2 separate regions of the Homo sapiens genome follow, and region 1 is linked to region 2. The links come from fine-mapping of genetic effects on gene expression. Tissue or cell type: whole blood. Region 2 holds a variant in brackets; the other region holds the start of a gene. All regions are shown on one strand. Distances are from middle to middle.

What was found. PIP is the estimated chance that this variant, and not a neighbour inherited with it, causes the effect.
Region 1: GORASP1 starts here. The variant in region 2 is fine-mapped to the expression of GORASP1 in whole blood (TOPMed, PIP above 0.99).

Annotation. Positions count from the first base shown.
Region 1 is chr3:39,103,545-39,113,340 of GRCh38, reverse strand. GORASP1 (golgi reassembly stacking protein 1) reads left to right here and starts at 5,714. Exons shown (of 9, transcript NM_031899.4): 1 at 5,714-5,862; 2 at 9,788-9,796. The coding sequence starts at 5,800. TTC21A (tetratricopeptide repeat domain 21A) reads right to left here and starts at 5,661. Exons shown (of 29, transcript NM_001366900.1): 1 at 5,477-5,661; 2 at 4,127-4,256; 3 at 3,202-3,312; 4 at 2,324-2,490; 5 at 761-883. The coding sequence starts at 5,503. RefSeq lists a silencer at 5,765-6,084.
Region 2 is chr3:39,029,637-39,039,724 of GRCh38, reverse strand. SCN11A (sodium voltage-gated channel alpha subunit 11) reads left to right here. Exons shown (of 30, transcript NM_001349253.2): 2 at 7,222-7,345. Among named protein-coding and RNA genes, the nearest start is that of SCN11A, 17 kb to the left of the region's middle. The variant T/C (reference allele first, on the strand shown) is at 4,005.

The sequences.
Region 1 (9,796 bases), 74 kb before region 2:
TGCTCTGTGATAAGCTGGCTCACAATAATCTCCATTGCTTTCTGCCAGCCAGAAAACCAACCTAATACACACCCTGGACCCAAGTATAGAAAGAAGACTAGAAGACATTGCCCTAAAATACTAACATTTGTCTTGGAGCGGTAAGACTAAGCCTGCCATTTTAATTCATCTGTTGACTTTTTTTAGGCTTCTGTTTTCTTAAATAAGTATGTATTCTTTTATAATAAAAATATATGCAAACAGAAGAAAATACGAGGACATTTTTTCTCTCAAAGATTAATTCCATGAGGTTCACAAGAGAAAAAAGAAACTTAAGATCAGAAAACACAGAACATATAAAATATATACCTCCCTTCTCTTACGGCACACTAAATGAATTTAACAGGTAGAAAGAAGTGAAATGGGAAGGTCAAAATAAAAGAAGAAAGGGAGAAGGGCACTGAGTGAAACTAACACAGAGGCAGAGAGAAAGCCTGAGAGGGTCAAGGAAGGATAGACCTTAAGAAAGTGACCCTGAGAAGACCCCCATGCAAATGAGACAGAAACTCAGATCAAGCAGGAAGAAATCTGAGAAGTAGAGTGGACCTTGGACTGCTGTGTAACCCTGGATTGGTTGCTGAACCTCTCTGGGCCTCTGCTCTTTATCTACGAGATGAGGCATCTGGAGACTACGAGGGTTTGGCCTGGGGGTACCTGGTGGGTCTCTGGTTCCAGTGGCCTGGCCAGGAATACTTCCACCTCTCCCTTTTCCACTGCCCACCTTTCCCATCAGCCCCAGCACATCTTTGGTGTCCTGAATTCCTTGTTCCAGGTACTCAATGGCTTTCTTCGCAGTGTGGGGCTTGTCTGAGGTCAGGTCCACCCAGCCTCTGAGCACATAGGCCTGGGATGAGAACAAGATGAAAGATGAAGTCCTTGGTCCTGCACAGAATCAACTCAGCCTGCACATGATCCACACTTTGCCACCCAAAACCCTGAGGCCCTGCCAGGCACAGTCCCGTGCAGATCCCAGGGCAGCCAGCTCTCTCTCATGGCCAGGACTCCCATTGTTGCTTTGTCTGGAAATGCCCTGGACAGCGCCCCTCCCACTCCCAACCAAACCCCTTCACCTAATGTCCATTACCACTACTTACAACTCAGCCTCAGAGGCCCCTGCTTAGGAGGCCTCCCTCCCTGTACCCCTACAGCTCTCCATGACCCTTACTGAGGCACACTCACCTATCCTGTCATTGCCTGTTTACACTGGGGTCAGGAGCCAACATGGGGGCCTACGCAAGGCCACTCTTGATGTCTCCACTCCTTAGGCCAGCACGAGGCCTGGCCCTGCATAGGAAGCCAAGGAATGCCCTCTGAGTGGGTGAGCAGGAGCCGTTCTGAGCTCGTGGACCTCGCTGGTTCCATGTTAGCCTTCACCCAGCCTCTCCAGGCAGATGGGGAGGGCCAGGCCTGGGAAGCAGACTTGGAAGAGCCCTGCCCTAAAGCACCCCTCTTGATGGCCTAGATCAGTATTTCTCTATTATAGTTCTATTTCTCTTTTTCTATTATCTATCCTAAGGAGTCTCTTTAGATACTGTTTTCTAATCAATCCCTCCCCTTCCAAGAAATGTTAGTGCCTCAGATATACCGTATCTGTGTATTGTGTACTGTATATATATCTGTGTTTTATACATAAAGAGTAAGATTTTTTTCACCCTCTCCCCCAGGGACCATGTCTACACCCTTGAAAATTGGTATCAGCCCTGCTGAGAAGGCATGGCCTAGACTGAGGCTTCAAATTCCATATTAGTGCAGATATACAGTATATGGGCTGCACTGCATGAGCCACCATTCAGTTCCAGCAGAGCATTACAGGGAGGGAATGGCCCAGTGTGGCCAGCTCATCTGGGTCTTCAAAAGAACCAGTAAGTCTGGACCAGCCTGGGCAACATGGCAAGACCCAGTCTCTACAAAAAATGTAAAAACTAGCTGGGCATGCTGGCACACACCTATGGTCCCAGCTACTTGGGGGGCTGAGGTGGAAGGATTGCTTGTGCCTAGGAGGTTGAGGCTGCAGTGAGGTCTCAAAAAAAAATTTCTTAAGAATATGGTGCAAGCCATAGAAAATCTATCTAAAGATCAGACTCTGTGTACAAATGCCAATGTGTAACCTCTGCTAAGCCCAGAGACAACACGCGTGGGGCAACTGTGAGACCCGGTGTTTTGCCAGTGCCTGGGTGTGGCTCTCCCCCAGTTTCAGGGCCCTTTGTGGGAATGAGGGCCACCCTGCTATTATGTGTTTGGATGCTGCTTTCTTCGCCTGTTGTCCCCATGGTGTGGTAAGTACCTCTCTGAAGCCTCTAGAAATCTTCAGCATGCGGTCAATGTACTCTTTGGCCTTGTCATGGCGGCCTATGAGCCAGAGGAAAAGGCCAGCATAGTACAGTGCAGTCCCACTGACTGTCTTGCGTATTTCCTTCAGGCTGTACTCAAGCTCCTGAATTGCTTCTCGGTCTGTAAATCCAAGAGCGAAGGAAGAGGGAGAGTTAGGATGTGGAAGTCTGCCTGGTTCTGCATGGGCCACCGAGGGCCCAGGGAACTACCTCGGGGTCTCCCCCAGACACTGTGGATCTCCTTCAACATATGCAGCACACCGCATGCAGCCCAAGGCCTGGAAACCAGCAGTACCTGCCCTTGAGATGCTGCAGGGGCTGCCCTGGTGTGGACTCACGTGTGCTGTCTGAGATTACCTTCTCTTCTCTGTGCCCAGCAGTGTGCTGAGCAGGCAGGCCAAACCAAAATCCTTAGCCTCAGGCCCACAACTTATTGTGAGTAGGGAAATAGTAGTCTGTAGTCTCTCTTGGACCCTCTCCCTGACTCTAGAAATGTGGAGATTAGGGGTAGAATTATATATATTGGCTTGGTTTTTCTGACAAGATCTTGGCAAAGAAGAAGGGTGTTTCCCCAACTCTTGGGATCTGGAGCATGGGCCCCTCCCACTGTCATGGGCTCTGCCTGCTTCCACTCAGTTGGGCCCAGGCATGGAGTCTTCTCCCAGGCCTCCAGGGGGAGAGGAGCAGCAGCCACTTCTCACTGGTTAACAGCATCTGCACAGCCACCAGGGCACATACCTCCTTTGGCAGCCCTTGAGGGGCTGTGTTATCTCTGGGGCAGGGCTTTCCTTCCCCTGGTGGGTCAGGCCTGGTTGAGCATGGTGGCACTCACCAATGATTTCACATCTTTTGTGAGCATAAATGAGGGCCATGGTGGAGCACAGGGACACGTCTGGGTGATGCCTGATGCTTTCCAGGTCACTGATGGCATCCTGGATGTGCTCTGCAAAGACAGTCCACATAGTTATACTCTCAAGCTCCAGGACTAGAGGACATGAGACTCTGTAGCTGACCCAACAGCTCAGCACTACTACCTGCTGGACTAACTGGTCTGAAAGGTCCCCAGTGACCCAAGTTCCCTGAAGATTGGGGCTCTTTGAAAGAGTTGCTGGTAACATGGTCCAGGCTGTTAGGGGCTGGAAATCTTGGACTTGAAAGGTTCACCCTGTGAGTACTTGTGGGGATATGTGTGAGGCTGCAATTATTAGCTGCGTCAGTTCTGAAGAAGGACCTCAGGCAGGGCATTCTCAGCTACTGCTCAAGAGCCACTGATTACATTTATCCCTCCATGTCCTCAGACATTTGGCCATGGGCTATTCTGCCAGTCCTCAGCCTAGGACCACCTTCTGAATGTCAGCCCATCTGCACCTGCATGGGTCTCACTCCTCTCCCTGTACCTGTACCATACCCACCTGTCCTCACACCTACCTCTTCCCCCTCCTTTGCCTGCATTACCAGTTCTCAGCTTCCAGGCCTGGAATTACTTCAAGAATCATGCAGCTATCTCTCCAACCACTCATTTTACAGAGAGGGAACCCGAGGTGCAGAGCAGGGATAGTCAGCGCTCTGAGGTCTCAAAAGTCAACTAGATATGGATTACGTAGGCCTCTGTGGATTCCCGTGGGAATCCAGCCGCTGAGTGTGAAACTGTTTTTATGGGACCATAACTAGGATACAAGAAGGCATCCAGGTGGAGCCAGAGTGTTAGGGCCCAGCTAGTGCCTGGGGTCACAAGACCAACACTGCCAAGTCCTTACCTTCTTTGAGGACTCCATAGGCTTTAAAGAACTTCAACACAGGGTCATTGCTGAATTTTTCCAGGCCCACAGCTGCAGCCTGCTGCACATGGTGGAAGTACTTTTCCTGGCTATAGTAAATGATCCCAGCCTGTATGAAGGAAGACATAACTGCAATAGCCCAGTCCCTTCTCTGTCTCTGTTCTGTCCCAGATGGGATGAGACCTGCTCCCTTCCCTATCCCCTGCTCCTCCTCAGTTCTGCAAAGGGAAGAGAAAGAGGAAACATTCAGGCCTCATCCTGTCCTCTAACAGCCCTGGGAGCAGCTCCATGCAGTTTTCCCAGGAAAGAGTTTGGAGGTGTTTGTTTGGGGGATTACCAACAGATTCTGGTTCAACTATGATGGGGAATTCAACCAAGGCTTTGTCTTAGGAAGGGAATAAGGGGGGAAAAATGAGGACAAATAATAAGAAAAATTATACGAATTGTAGTTACAAGTTATTGTGGGCTTCATATCCACTATCCTGTGCATGGTCCTCTCAGTATCTTTCACAGCTAAGGAAGCTTAAGCCCATGGAAACTACAGCTTGACAAAGGGGCTGAGATTTTAAAGTTAAGTTTCACTTCCTCTAAGGTTTGTGGGTGCTAGGTTGGGAGCAGATGTGGTTGGACTGTAAACATCCTCATGGGCCATATGAAAGAGCCCAGACACCATCCTAAGGGTAACAGAAAGCAGAATGGTTTTAAGGCGAGGGATGTTTTCAGATGTACATTTTTGCAACAACCACTCTGGCTGCTTTTGCATGTGGGGGGTGTGTGCCGTGGTGGCAGCAGGGACTACTGATGCTGAAAAGAGCCACAGCAGAGAAACCAGATGGGAGGGAGGCTGTTGCAGGCTCTCAGGGGGGAGAGATGGTGCTGGTTCTGGGCTAGAAGATAAAAAGATAAAAAGAAAACCCAGGAGACATCAAGGAGCTGGCATTTCTTGTAGACAGGATTAGAAGATGAGTATAGGGAAGAGGTATGAGTTAAGGCTAGGAGATTAAATGGTGAAGCCATCAACTGGGGTGGGAGGCGCAGGCGAGAGTGAGCTGGGTGGAAGAAGGGATGATGACAAGAAGGGATAATGATAGTGATTGGATGAGCTGGTTTGGGGTAGCTCAAGAAACGGGGATGCTAATTTGGGGCTCAGGGTGCGCAGAAGCCACCGGAGAAGACGCCCTTGCCAGGGGGAGTGGGGCAAGAAAAGGCAGGACCGCCTGATATAACTGAGGACAGCGAAGGGTGGCAGGAGAGTAGCAGGGCAGACGGTCTCTGGGTCAGGGGCGGGGAGTCACGAGGGAGCCCTCGGACAGCGCCCGGGCCACGCACCATAAGGGAGGAGTCATTGCTGCTCATCTCGGGCCGCTCGCGGCTCCGAGTCCGGGTCTGGTGGGGCGGTGCAGAGCGGGATTCCCGAGGCAGGGTCGTGGGCACTCTATCGCGGCGGGCGGTTGAAGGCGTTACAGTCCTTGGAAACCGAGCTGCTAGCCGGTTGCTAGGAGCGTCCAGTGTCTGGAGTGGGAGGAACAAAACGCCTCACGTCACAAGGCGCAGGAATCGAGCGCCGAGAGAGCGAGTCGGTGCTACTGGCGTCGGGTCGGTCCGGGTAGGCGCAGCGGGACTGGACCTGGGTGCCGAGCGGAGCCGCTGCCATGGGCCTGGGCGTCAGCGCTGAGCAGCCCGCAGGCGGCGCCGAGGGCTTCCACCTCCACGGGGTGAGTTGCCGCCGCGGCGCCGGTGACCTTGGCGAGGCGCCCGCAACCCCGCGCCCGGGCGTCCGGTCGCCGGCTGGCTGGCGACTGCGGCGGGGTCCCGGCCCGAGTGTTTCCGCCTGGGTGGCGGGAGGTGCCCCCTGCCCGGTGGGAGCCTCCTGGGAGAGGCGGCCTCGCGGGACTCCCGGACCCTGGCTAGTCCGCGGCCGCGGTCGGGCCCAGCGCCCGCCCCAAGTGCCAGCAGTGCCGGAAGCGGAGCGTTTTCCTGGTCCGGCCGCCGGGAATGGCGCTCCTCCCGGGTGAAGAATGCACCACTACCAGTCGGGACGCACTCGTGCACTTAGCACACATTTACGCTCGCCTGCCGCGGGCCGCTCTCCGTGCTGGGCCTGGGAAGAGAGTCAGCCACGCCGAGGACAGTCCCGGGGGCCGGGGTTAACCGAGTGGACGCAGCTGCGGGGGAGCCCGTCGGCGCGCGTCCTGCCAGTCGTAGGGTCGTAAGGGCTTCCGAGGGTAGAGGACCGGTGCAAACCAGCCACGGGATAGTGGGGAGCGGGAGGGCCGGGAGAGTGCTGCAGAATCCTCGAGGAGAGCGTTTGCAGCTGGGGAGGGTCCCAGCCTTTAGATGCCGCTACATGGAGGTCTGGGCGAGCAGGCTTCCGGAGAGTGGAGACGGAGTGGGGTTCCTAGAACGGAGTGTGCTGTGAGGGTGAGGAGAGGGTCCCGCAGCCGGATGGAGATTTGTGCCTGCGGTGAGGGAAGGGCTATAATGTAGGTGAGAGGGGCTGGGGGTCTCTGACCCCGGAGCGCTGCGGGGAAGAGGCGTCCCTGCACCCCCCCTTTCCCTAGTGAAAGGCAGCTGGATGCAGAGATGAGTGGAGACAGGCAAGCTTGTCGGTTTGTGTGTTTTGAAGGTAGGGTCTGTTGCCAGCTAACCACATGAGAGGGCTAAAAGTTTCTTAACGTGAAAACCAGGCTGGCTTGGAGAACCCAGAGTTGACAGGATTTGTGCTTGGGAATGGGCTTTCTTATGGTGAGACACCAAACAGCAAGCGTGGACAGTGGAATGCATCCAGCCAGGAGCGTCTTCCAACAGGTTTGATTAAAGGCAAAGGAACTCAGGATATTGGCAAGAGGAGGGGTGGGGCGATGATGGGAGCTTCGAAGACGGGAGGGGCCTGCCTGATGGAGAGGGACAAATTGGAGAGGGACCAGGGATCAGAGGTTGTCAGTCACAAAAACAAAGTTTTGAGCTCCTACTCTGGCAGGCAGAATTCTAAGGCTCTAGAGATAAAGCAGTGAACAGAACAAACATGGTCCCTGTTCTGGAGCTGACATTTGGATGATGGTAGGGAAAGAAGGGAAATGAAAAAATACATGGTAGGTGGTAATTACCAGTGATAAAAATAAAGCAGGTTAAGGGGATACAGAATGGTGAGTGGGTGCTATTTTTGATAGAGTGGTCAGGAAGGGCCTCTTCTCAAGTCACATTCGAACAGATGCTTCTGAAGGAAGTAAAGAGTGGACAATACAGATATTTAGGGGAATAGTAGTATTCCAGGCAGAAGGACCAGCTTGTGCAGAGGCCCCGAGGTAGGTTGTGCTTGTGTGTTTGAGGAAATGCCAGGTGAGGCTGGTGTGCTTGGATGGTGTGGCCAGTGTGAGGAGGAGACCAGAGCAGACCGTGTAGGACCTTGCCTGTTGTCCTGAAGATTTAAGATTTTATTCTGAGATGTAAAACCATCAGGAGGTTTTAAATGGAGGAGTGACATGACCTACTTACCTTTAACAACACTGAAGAACAGCTGTGCTGCATTCTAGAAATATTGGCACCTCGCTGCGTGCCCAATACTTTGGAGAAGTCGCTGCCCTCAGCGAGCTTAGAGTAGTGGCAGATTCACCAGGAAACAGCTGTTAGGAGAGGGCAGTGGTTAGGGGGAGGGCTCTGGGTTGGATTTCCTGGGGTCAAATTACTGAATTATTGAGTACTTGGTCTCATTTGTCATTTGAGGTTATTAAAAAGGTTAAATGACACATAAAGCAGGTGAGGTGGTGCCATGCCCTGGCACTCAGCCAACCAGCCCTTAGTAAGTGTAAGTTGTGATCACTGTGAGTTCCATTAGGTTCCCTGATTGGGAAAAATAGGGTGGGAGCATGAGGAAAAGCAGCACTATAGGGCCTTGGGGCAGGCTGTGATGGGAGCCCCTGAGGGAGCTGGATGGCAGGCAGTGGTTTCTGCAGGGGGAGCCGTACAGTGGGCAGCAGCATAGATTATTTCAGCTGCGGAGCCATAGTGAGTAGTGATGAGGCCCCAGGTGAGAGAAGTGGAGTGTAGCCAAGCAGAGGACAAAGCCACAGGAGAGGGTGGTGGAGGTATTGGGTGGGTCAAGGAGGCCAGGCCTGGGGCCTGACCCTCTGGACCTCATTCATGATGGAGAGCAGCTGACATGCAATACTGGGGAGTGGGGAGGGAAGTAGGCAGGCACCTGACGTGGAGTGATTTGGAGGTGGCCCTGATTAGGGAGGGGCATTGTCCCCAAGCTATTCCTGAATAACTGTCCTGTCCTGTGGTTTTCGAAAGATCCCCTCACCTGAAGGGTTAGAGGGCAGGGCCCAGAGCTCCCCTGCAGCGGGGCCTGGGAGCAGCTTGCCTACTGGGCCAGGCCAACTAGGCCCAGATCTGATTTCTGGGCCGCACTCACTCCCTTTGGAAGCCATGGCAGCTTCTGGAGGTGATAAGGAGGGGCTCAGTTGGTGATGCTGCCAGAAGGGAATCCTAATTCCAGGGGCAAACTGGCCTTGATCTCAGCGGTTTGTTCTCAGCCTAGTCTTCATGAGCTCTCCTTCAGGTTGGGGAATCCAAACCTGGAGGGGCTGGTATGTAGCAGGAGCCACAGGGCCTTTCCCATGAGGAGGCAGCAAGAGCCTAGGTCCTGTGCCCTCTGGGCTGGGTCTGGCTGGTGTCTACGCCAACAGGTTATCAAATGCCCGCAGCCAAAGACCTGAGGGTGTGGGCCCATCTTCGGGTCTAGGGCCTTGGGACAAAGCCTGCATTGTTTAAGCCAGGCTCTGTATATGGGGCTTTTGGGATGGATTTCTGCCACAGCCTGCAAAGCCTGGTTGTTGTGCTTTTGGAGACAGCAGTGAGGTGGGGAGTTCAGGGAGGGGCAGGGAGCACCCTGGAAATGGGAATGCTTCCTGGAGGAGGTGTCCTGCACAGGCATGGAGGCTACACTATGAGGCTGGTAGGGCAGCTGAGCCACTGGGGGGCTCCTCAGTCCAGAGCCAGGCTGTGGGGATTGGCACTGCCCACTCACTGGGCTCCCTGGCTCAGGCCTAGTTCTACCCCTGGGGTCTGCTTCTCTGCCAGTGGCTTTCATTACCTGCTGGACTGAGCCTGGGTCTCCCACCCCAGAGGCTGGGGTGCAAGCTGGGACCTGGCTGCAAGCTGCTTTTCCCACTCCCTCTTTCTGGGTACAGCCCTGGGTGTATCCCTCCCGAGGCCTGCCCACTTCCACTGCACGTCAGGGCCCTCCCTTCTGGTCCAGTCTAAACCTTTCTGGTAAACCCTTTTGGCTTTCCGGCCAACCCTAGCCTAGCCCTCTAGAGCAGCATTCCCACAGGCCTGGGCCAGCCTGTCTCCATATTGCCTCCTGGGAGCCCCTAAGGATGTCCTGGGCTGTGAGCCATTTCTGAAAGCATCTGTGGATCATAATCAGGAAGGAGCCATTTTCCTAAGAGGAAAATTTGTGCCCAGGAAGGTAGCAAGAGGCCATGGAGTGAACCCTGAGAATGTCCGGAACAGTTCATGCCAGACATGTGTTCTGGCTGGCACACTGGGAGTGCTGATGGTTCCTGAAATGGGGGAGAGGGCTACTTGGAGAGTCCCAGGGTTGGCGCAGTGACTGTGGTCTTTGCTGTGGGATAGGTGCAGGAG
Region 2 (10,088 bases):
GGGGATAGGGTTGCTGGCAGCGGTGGGTACCAGGTGGCTGGCCAGGCACATTGGCTTCCTCACTCCTGAGGGTGACCTCCTTACTGTGCTGGACTACCTGCTTCCTGGAGCACAGAGTGCTATGTGGGCTTTAGTGCTAGAGTCATGGCTCTACTGCTAGGTCTGGCTGGGATACTGGCACTCAGTCTTCTGTATGGGCATGGTGGAATGACCGCAGGGCCCCAGGGATATTGGAGACATAGGGCCATTGGATCCTGGGGCAGGATGTACTTCAGCAGTGGCTTCTTTCCCAAAATGGTACCATGCCGTGACAGCTTAGGTCCCAGGGAGTCTGCAGGAGAGGGTTCATTGTGTGTTTGTGGATGTATTTTAAAACCATCACACTGCCATAGGCAAAATAAATAGATTCAGAAACAAAGGGATATTATACCTAATGACCCACTTAAAACAATTTTTTAGACTTCCATTCTCTGAAATTCTGGGCTTCGGTGGTTTTAGAGGTTTGTTTCTAAAGAAAGGAGTTCCTCCAGCAAGGGCTAAACAATGATTTCTTTGATTTGGAGCTGAGACTGCCATCTGACCATTTTCCATGTCATCTATCATTGGATAAGCAAGAGAAGAAGAAGGTGAAAGAGAGGAAGAAGGTTATGGTATTGATTGATGTTATTAAACTTATCATCAAGCAAAAAAAATAGTTCTGCTGGTATATCTTTAAACAGATAGATCTACCAAATGCTTGGATCCCTTAGAAATGAAGGTATTGGCTGAAAGTAAAAGGAACATGGAATCGCTAGTAGAGAAAGGAAGTCATAAATGGAGGGAAGGCCTTATGATCAGGGGAAGAAATGAGAGTTGTCATCTTGTTTATGTATTTTTTAATGTTTCATGTATTCTTTTATGTGTTTTCACTTTTCTTTAGCCTTTATACTTCACTATTGTATGTAGGGTGTGATACTGTTGTAAACTTCATTATTTAGTCCATAAGTATCAGAATGTGGATACGAAATCAGTACAGAACTTGAAGAAGAATGGCCACCAACTAGACTTGGTGATGGATGGTTCTAGACTTGGAATTGGGTTGATGGATGTGGTAACTGATGACACATTGGATTGACTTCCTTGGAGAGTGACAGTGTGAGTGCATCTTTGATTGTATAAAGGAAAATTGCAATATTTTAAGTGGCAACACTTTTTTGAAATGTAAACATTGGAAGCAATGGTTATATTGGTGTTGGGCAACCAAAGGGATGACTTTGTGTTTGACATTTTTGTGGTTTTATTTTCTGCTGTTTATCATCTGAGCCCTCTTTCTATGTGTGTGGAATTCCTCACTGTATGTGTCTTGGTTGTGGTGAGCAATACTCCCACTATAGAAAATGAGGATAGTTACTCACTTCTATAGTTAAAGTATGTTCATGTAACCTCAGCTTGACTAATCAGATAACATCTTGACTGCAACCTCATGAAACTCTGAGCTACAACCAACCACCTAAACTGCTCCTGAATTCCTGAACTACAGAAACTGTGTGAAACAATAAATGTTTATTATTGTTTTAAGTGGCTAAGTTGTGGGATAATTTGCATTGCAACAAAAGATAACTAATACACCTTCTCTTCCTCATGGGGAGTGGAAATGTCACAGCGCCTTCACAGCTCTCACAAAGATATTCTTACCATCACCCTCTTCAATCTACCATTTAATTCTTTGCCTTCTCTTACAAAATTGCTAGGAGGCTTGTCCTGGCAGAATTCCTTTAACAATCTTTTTAGCATTTTCTTTATGAAAAGATTGGTTTCGTTATTCAAAATGTAAGAAGCCTTGACACCTATTACATTGTTTTCAGCTTTTAAGACTTCTGCCAAAACTCCTAGATAATATGAAAGGTTTAACATCCTTCTTTATTTTCGGCTCCCATTCTCATTTCTATCCCCCATTATAAGTACAGTCATCCCTCAATATCTATGGGGGATTTGTTCCAGGACCTCCTCTGATACCAAAATCCAAGTATACTCTAGTCTCTGATATAAAATGGGATAGTGTTTGCATATAACCTAAGCACATCCTCCTGTACAGTTTAATTTTTTTTATTTTTAATTTTATAGGTATATAGTAGATGTATATATATTTATGAGGTACATGAGATACTTTGATAGAGGCATACAATGTGCAATAATCACATCAGGGTATATGGCGTATCTATTACCTGAAACATTCATATTTCTTTGCGTTACAAACATTCCAATTGTACTCCCTTAGTTATTCTAAAACATACAACAAATTATAAATGACTGTAGTCACCTTCTTGTGCTATCAAATACTAGGTTTTATTCATTCTATCTAACTATATTTTTGTACCCATTAATGATACCCACTTCCCTGACCCCCACCACTACCCTTCACAGCTTTTAGTAACCATCATTTTACTCTATCTCCATGAGTTCAATTGTTTTAATTTTTACTTCCTACAAATTAGTAATAACATGCAAAGTTTGTTTTTCTATGCCTGGCTTATTTCACTTAACATAACGTCCTCCAGTTCCATCCACGTTGTTGCAAATGACACGATCTCATTCCTTTTTGTAGCTGAATAGTACTCTATCGTATACACGTGCCACATTTTCTTTATCCACTTGTCTGTTGATGAACACTTAGGTTGATTCCAAATCTTGGCTATTATGAGTAGAGCTGCAATAAACATGAGAGTGCAGATATCTCTTCAATATACTGATTTCCTTTCTTTTGGCTATATACCTAGCAGTGGGATTGCTGGATCGTATAGTAGTTCTATTTTCAGTTTCTTGAGGGAACTTCTATACTGTTCTCCAGAGTGGCTGTACTAATTTACATTCCCACTAACAGTATATGAGGGTTCCCTTTTCTCCACTAGCATTTGTTATTGCCTGTCTTTTGGATAAAAGCCATTTTAACTGGGGTGAGATAATATAGTTTTGATCTGCATTTCTTTGATGATCAGTGATGTTGGGCACCTTTTCATTCGTATGTCTTCTTTTGAGAAATATCTATTCAGATCTTTTGCCCATTTTTAATTGGATTATTAGATTTTTTCTTACAGAGTTGTTTGTGTTCCTTATATATTCTGGTTATTAACCACTTGTCAGATGGATAGTTTGCAAATATTTTTTCCCGTTCTATGTATTCTCTCTTCACTTTGTTGATTATTTCCTTTGCTGTGCAGAAGCTTTTTAGCTTGACGTGATCCCACTTATCCATTTTCTTTGATTGTCTGTGCTTTTGGGATATTACTCAAGAAATCTGCTTGGCCAGGTGTGGTGGCTCTTGCCTGTAATCTCAGCACTTTAGGAGGCCGAGGCGGGTAGATCACTTGAGGCCAGGAGTTTGAGATCAGCCTGGCCAACATGGCAAAATCCCGTCTCTACTAAAAATACATAAATTAGCCAGATGTGGTGGGGCATGGCTATAATCCCAGCTACTTGGGAGGCCTGAGGCGTGAGAATCTCTTGAACCTGGGAGGCGGAGGTTGCAGTGAGCTGATATTGTGCCATTGCACTCCAGCCTGGGCTACGGAGTGAGACTCTGTCTCTAAAAAAAAATAAAAAGAAATCTGCTGAGTGCAGAAAGCTGACGCAGGAGGATTGCTTAAGTCCAGGAGTTCTGGGCTATAACGCACTATGCCAATCAAGTTTCTGCACTAAATTTGGCATCAATGTGGTGACCTCCCAGGAGCAGGGGACCAGACCACCTGGTTGCCTAAGGAGGATTGGACTAGCCCAAGTCAGAAATGTAGCAAGTCAAAACTTCAATGTTGCCAGGCACAGTGGCTCACGCCTGTAATCCCAGCACTTTGGAAGGCCAAGGCGGGTGGATCACAAGGTCAGGAGATTGAGACCATCCTGGCTAACATGGTGAAACCCTGTCTCTACTAAAAATACAAAAAATTAGCCAGGCGTGGTGGCGGGTGCCTGTAGTCCCAGCTACTCGGGAGGCTGAGGCAGGAGAATGGCATGAACCCGGGAGGCGGAGC[T/C]TGCAGTGAGCTGAGATTGTGCCACTGCACGCCAGCCTGGGCAACAGAGCGAGACTCCATCTAAAAAAAAAAACCTTCCATGTTGATCAGTACCAGGATCACACCTGTGAATAGCCACTGCACTTCAGCCAGAGCAACATAGGGAGATCCCATCTCTAAAAAAAGAAAAAAGAAAAAATTTTGCCCAGACTAATGTCCTGGAGAGTTTCCTCAATGTTTTCCTTTAGTTGTTTCATAGTTTGAGGTCTTAGATTTAAGTCCTTAATCCATTTTGATTTGATTTTTATATACGGCAAGAGATAGGGGCCTAGTTTCATTCTTTTGCATATGGATATCCAGTTTTCCCAGCACCATTTACTGAAGAGACTGTCCTTTCCCCAGTGTATGTACTTGGCACCTTTATCAAAAGTGAGTTCATTGTAGATGTATGGATTTATTTCTGGATTCTCTATTCTGTTCCCTTGGTCTGTGTGTCTGTTTTTGTGTCAGTACCATACTGTTTTTGTTACTATGGCTCTGTAATATAATTTGAAGTCAGGTAATGTGATTCCTTCAGTTTTGTTCTTTCTGCTTAGGATGGCTTTGGCTATTCTGGGCCTTTCATGGTTCCGTATAAATTTTAGGATTTTTTTTTATTTCTGTGAAGAATGTTATTGTTATTTTCATAGGGATTGCATTGAGTCTGTAGATTGCTTTTGGTGGTATGGACATTTTAACAATATTAATTCTTCCAATCCATGAACATGGTATATCTTTCTATTTTTTGTGTGTCTGCTTCAATTTCCTTTATCAACATTTTATAGTTTTCATTATAGAGATCTTTTACTTTTTTGATTAAGTTTATTCTTGGTTTTTATTTGATTTGTTGTTATTGTAAATAGAATTACCTTCCTTCAGATTGTTCACTATTGACATACAGGAATGCTACTGATTTTTTATGTTGATTTTTATATCCTGCAACTCTACTGAATTTGTTTATCAGTTCTAATAGTTTTTTGATAGAGTCTTTAAGTTTTTCCCAATGTAAGATCATATCTGCAAACAAAGATAATTTGACTTCTTTCTTTCCAATTTGTATGCCTTTTATTTATTTCTCTTACTGGGTTGCTCTAGCTAGGACACTGACTACTATTAAAATATTCAATAACAGTGATGAAAGTGGACATCTTTGTTGTGTTCCAGATCTTCGAGGAAAGACTTTCAGTTCTTCTGCATTTAGTCTGATACTGACATAGGTCTGTTGTATATGGCTTTTACTGTGTTGAGATATGTTCCTTCTATGTCCAGTTCTTTGAGGATTTTTTTTTATCATGAAGGGATGTTGGATTTTATCAAATGCTTTCTCAGCATCAATTGAAATGATCATATGATTTTTGTCCTTTATTCTGTTAATATGTTGTATCACCTTAATTAATTTGTATATGTTGAACCGTCCTTGCATCTCTGGGCTGAATTCCACTTGGTCATAATGAACGATCTTTTTAATGTGCTGATGAATTCTATTTGCTGGTATTTTGTTGCCTCCTGTATAGTTTTTTTGTTTGTTTTGTTTTGTTTTTGAGATGGAGTCTCACTCTGTTGTCCAGGCTGGAATGCAGTGGTGCGATCTCGGCTCACTGCAACCTCCGCCTCCTGGGTGCAAGCAATTCTCCTGCTTCAGCCTCCTGAGTAGCTGGGATTACAGATGCACACCACCATGCCTGCTAATTTTTGTATTTTTAGTAGAAATGGTGTTTCATTATGTTGGCCAGGCTGGTCTCGAACTCCTGACCTTGTGATCTGCCCACCTTGGCCTCCCAAAGTGCTGGGATTACAAGTGTGAGCCACCATGCCCATCCTATACTTTTAATTATCTCTAGATTACTTATACCCAATACAATGTAAATGCTATGTAAATAGTAGTTCTACTATATTGTTTAGGCAATAACAAGAAAAAAACTCTTGAGTTTTTTTCAAATATTTTTTATTTGCAGTTGCTTGAATCCACAGATGTGGAACCCATGGATATTGAGGGCCAGCTGTACTGTGATGTGTTCATATAATCTCTCAGATTCCCTGTGAATGCCTAATGATAGCCATGTGCCATGACCTAAGGAATATTCTCAAGTCAATCTTACACACCTGAAGTTATTCACATGATGTGGTTCAAGTCCTAGGTCAGCCTTTGCCCTTTGAGAATTCACATTATCTCTCCAAGCCCCCAAGGTCTTAACTAATCTGTAAAATAGTAATAACAATGCTTTTCTCACAAGGTACTTCTGAGGTATATTGTAGTTCTGTTCTCTTTGAGTCTCGAATCTTTGTTTTAAGCATTTTTGTGCAATAAAATGTAGATTGTACATGAAAAAAGTTTAACATCTGGAAAGAAACCTCACATGTCTAATAAACAAAAATGTAGTAAATATAAAAAGTAAATATAAAAAGTAAATAAGAGTTTTAGAAGGCTTCTGCTTCCAAACAAACCAGACTTGCTATTGTTAAATCATCCTCTGAAGTTTGATCTTTCTTCTGCCAATTACCTGAGCAAGTTAATTAAGTTTTCTCTCTCTCTCTCTTTTTTTTTTTTTCAAGATGCAACCTCCTTCTGTTACCCAGGCTGGAGTGCAGTGGCGCTATCTCAGCTCACTGCAACCTCCACCTCCCAGGTTCAAGCAATTCTCCTGCCTCAGCCTCCCCAGTAGCTGGGATTACGGGCGCCCGCCACCATAGCTTGGCTAATTTTTGTATTTTTAGTAGAGTCAGGGTTTCGCCATGTTGGCCAGGCTGGTCTCGAACTCCTGACCTCAAGTGATCTGCCCACCTCGGCCTCCCAAAGTGTTGGGATTGTAGGCATGAGCCACTGTGCCTGGCCAGTTTCTCTCATCTTCAATTTCTTTATCTGTAAAATGGTAATAAAAATGGTACCCATTTCATATGGGTCTTCTGAATTCAAATGAGATGATCTTAGCATAGCACTTAGTATGCAGGAAATATTCAATATATTTTAGGTATTATTTTTAATAATCAGCTTGCCCAGGAAACATTGGCAAAGTGTTATAATTTCCTAGAGTCAACTGTCTCATAAGTTTTATGTAATACAGGCTCTATCACTTTTTAAAAATTTTCAAATCAGTTTGAAATTTTCTGTTTTTCTTGCCTCCTCTCTTGCTTTTACAACCTGGAAAAGGTCTTGTGAAATGATAAAGCTTGTTTTTTTTGTTGTTGTTGTTGTTTTCAGATTGTCCCAGTGCTTCGCATGTTTTTGGCTCCATGTTCAATCCATTTGCTGAACACAGTGAAAGTATCCAGTATGTCTTTCCACCGTACCCTAGAGTTGGCATCTTGTTTACCAGAGGGGAGCGGTGAGTGTTTTCATATTTTTTGTTTGTTCAAGAGGAATTAATATATTTTGAAAATATATTTAAAAATGCAACATAATTAGAGCCTTTATTTATAACCACCACTGTCTGTTAGTGATTAATATGTTAATTTGGATATTTTAAAGACAGATTTTTAAAAGAATAGAATAAGACTCATTTAAATAATGCAGAAATGCTAAATAAACTAATTTTTTGAGCAACTGAGTTTATTTTATTGCCCTGCTCCTGACACAGACATCAATCTGTTTTAAACACATCAGTTCTAGAAGTATATTTAGAAGTACAGGGGGAAATGAGCACGTAAGAATCAGTCAGTATTCAGAGATTAATCCACTCCTTTTGTATAACCATTTTTGGTTTTTTTTTGTTTGTTTTTATGTTAGTAAAATGTACTTTTTCTAAGTTTTTCCTTCACTGTAAAATATATCTATCAGTTGGTTAAAGCAGGATGCAAATGTGGTGGGAATTCTGACTTAGCAGGGTTTGGCAAACTTTTTCTGTAAACAAAATAAACTTTTTAATGCAAGCCTATCACGGATATTAATCAGATTCACGGAGAAACTAAGAAGCCGCATAATTTCTTCATAGCCCTTTAATAGTCTTCTTTGAAGAAATAAGGGTGTTATGATATATAATAGACTAGAAGATCATAATTAAATAATTATACAGAAGTAAAGCAAGATTATATAAGTATACATAGAGACTCAGAATGCTTAAAATGTTTAAGTTCAAAGTTGTGTACTATTTTTGTCCTGGCAGAAAGACCTCCATTTTATCTTTCTTTTTCTTTTTCCTTCCTTCTTTGTTTGTTTTTTTTTTGTTTGTTTGTTTTTTGTTTGACAGAATCTCACTCTGTCACCCAGGCTGGAGTGCACTGGTGCAATCTTGGCTCATTGCAACCTCCACCTCCCAGGTTCAAGCTATTCTCCTGCCTCAGCCTCCCAAGTAACTGGGATTATAGTCACATGCCACCACACCCAGCTAATTTTTGTATTTTTAGTAGAGATGGGGTTTCACCGTGTTGGCCAGGCTGGTCTCCAACTTCTGACCTCAAGTGATCCTCCTGCTTTGGCCCGCCAAAGTGTTGGGATTATAGGCAAGCGAGAGCCACCGTGCCTGGCCAAGACCTCGGTTTTAAATACAGTATTTACAATATCCTTTTGAAGTTGTAAGAAGTCATGGTGCTGAATGGTTCATTGTTCAACAGTTCACTTATTTCTGAACACACTGAGAAGAAAACATCCTTCAGTTCTTTTATCTCCTTCTGTCTATATATTTTACGTCCCAATATTAGAGACACATAAACCAGTCCATTTTCCATTTCAAAAATGCTTTGACCTCCATCTAGCTTTCCCACTGGAGGGCAGTAGAGAACCATCCAGGCCATCCTTGATTTGAACTAACTGGCGAATATGACAAGTCAGACTTCAAAATACTTAACACTTAATCCCTACTGATGAAAAGTCATAACCAAAGTATCTTTTCAGGAAACCTATTTTCTCCCATAAAAGTTCTATAATTGATCATGAAAATACATTAAAAGAAATAAAGCAAAATGTGTTTGTAAAGTACTAAGTGGGCAAAATAAAAACAATATAAAAACCATGTCACAAATGTGCTTTGTGTGTGTGTGTGGTAGGATTTTTGTTAGGAGCTGAACTGGCTGAGGCTTCTTAACAATACTAGTCTAAAAACGTGCGCTGGATGTAAATTTTAATCCACAAACTGATGTGTCAAATTGGATGTCGCATTATTAAAAATAAAAATAATTTCAAGCTCTTGGCCAGCTAAAATGATAGAAAACGTAACTTCAGTTACTGTTAAGATTCTTCTGACACTCTAATATACCATAAAGTCACTCATGTATCCCAGGGGTTATATGCCTGGAAGCACCAACAATCCTCAGGCCATAGTGGTTAGGGCTGAGATGCCTTAGGGTGTCAGAAATATGGTCCTGTGGAAGTGGGCGAGCCACTGGTCTTTTCTGCCGTTGAGACTGGGATTTTTTGTTAGGACCGGGAATCCCAGTGCCTAGGGCTGCACTTCCTGAAGAGCTCCAGCCATCACGACCAGGTTCTGTCACCAACCTAGATGTTTTCAGCAGTGGTTACAGGTCTGCCCTCTTTGCAGAGCATCTCCTGCTTTCGCTCACTCCTCCTCTTGCCTCCAAAGAGAATTGGCTTCTCCTCGCCATGCCCCTCCCCACTTAGATTTATAGTTTAAAACTCTTCAGTGAGCTTGAGCTTTCACTAAGGGCAAGACTAGAGATGATCTTTAAGCAGTTTCTGCCTTATGCCCAGGAATATAAACCACTCTTGAGACCAGCAAGCACTGTGGGCTGGCAACCCTCAGCAGATGGTGGAAATGGAAGAAAAATTACACTAAAAACAAAATATACTCTAATGTCTGAACAAATCATCTTGCCACAGAAGCTGGAACTGAAGACAATTCTTTTCCTAGTAATCTCCCTATAGAAAGCACAGGCATTCTTTATGTCTCTAAGCACCTTCAAACTGCATTCAAAATTAGGGTTGTGAATCTGGAATCTTTCTTTGCTAATTGGTTGTACATGAATGCCTGCAGAAGCCTTTGAATGGTAAATATTGTGGGAGGGGCAGTTGCCATGGTGACTGTCCAATGGACCCTTTTTCTTACATTTCAATTAAATCTTCATTGCTGAACTGCTATGAATGAGAAGGTAACAACTCAGTAACATCTGGAAGAC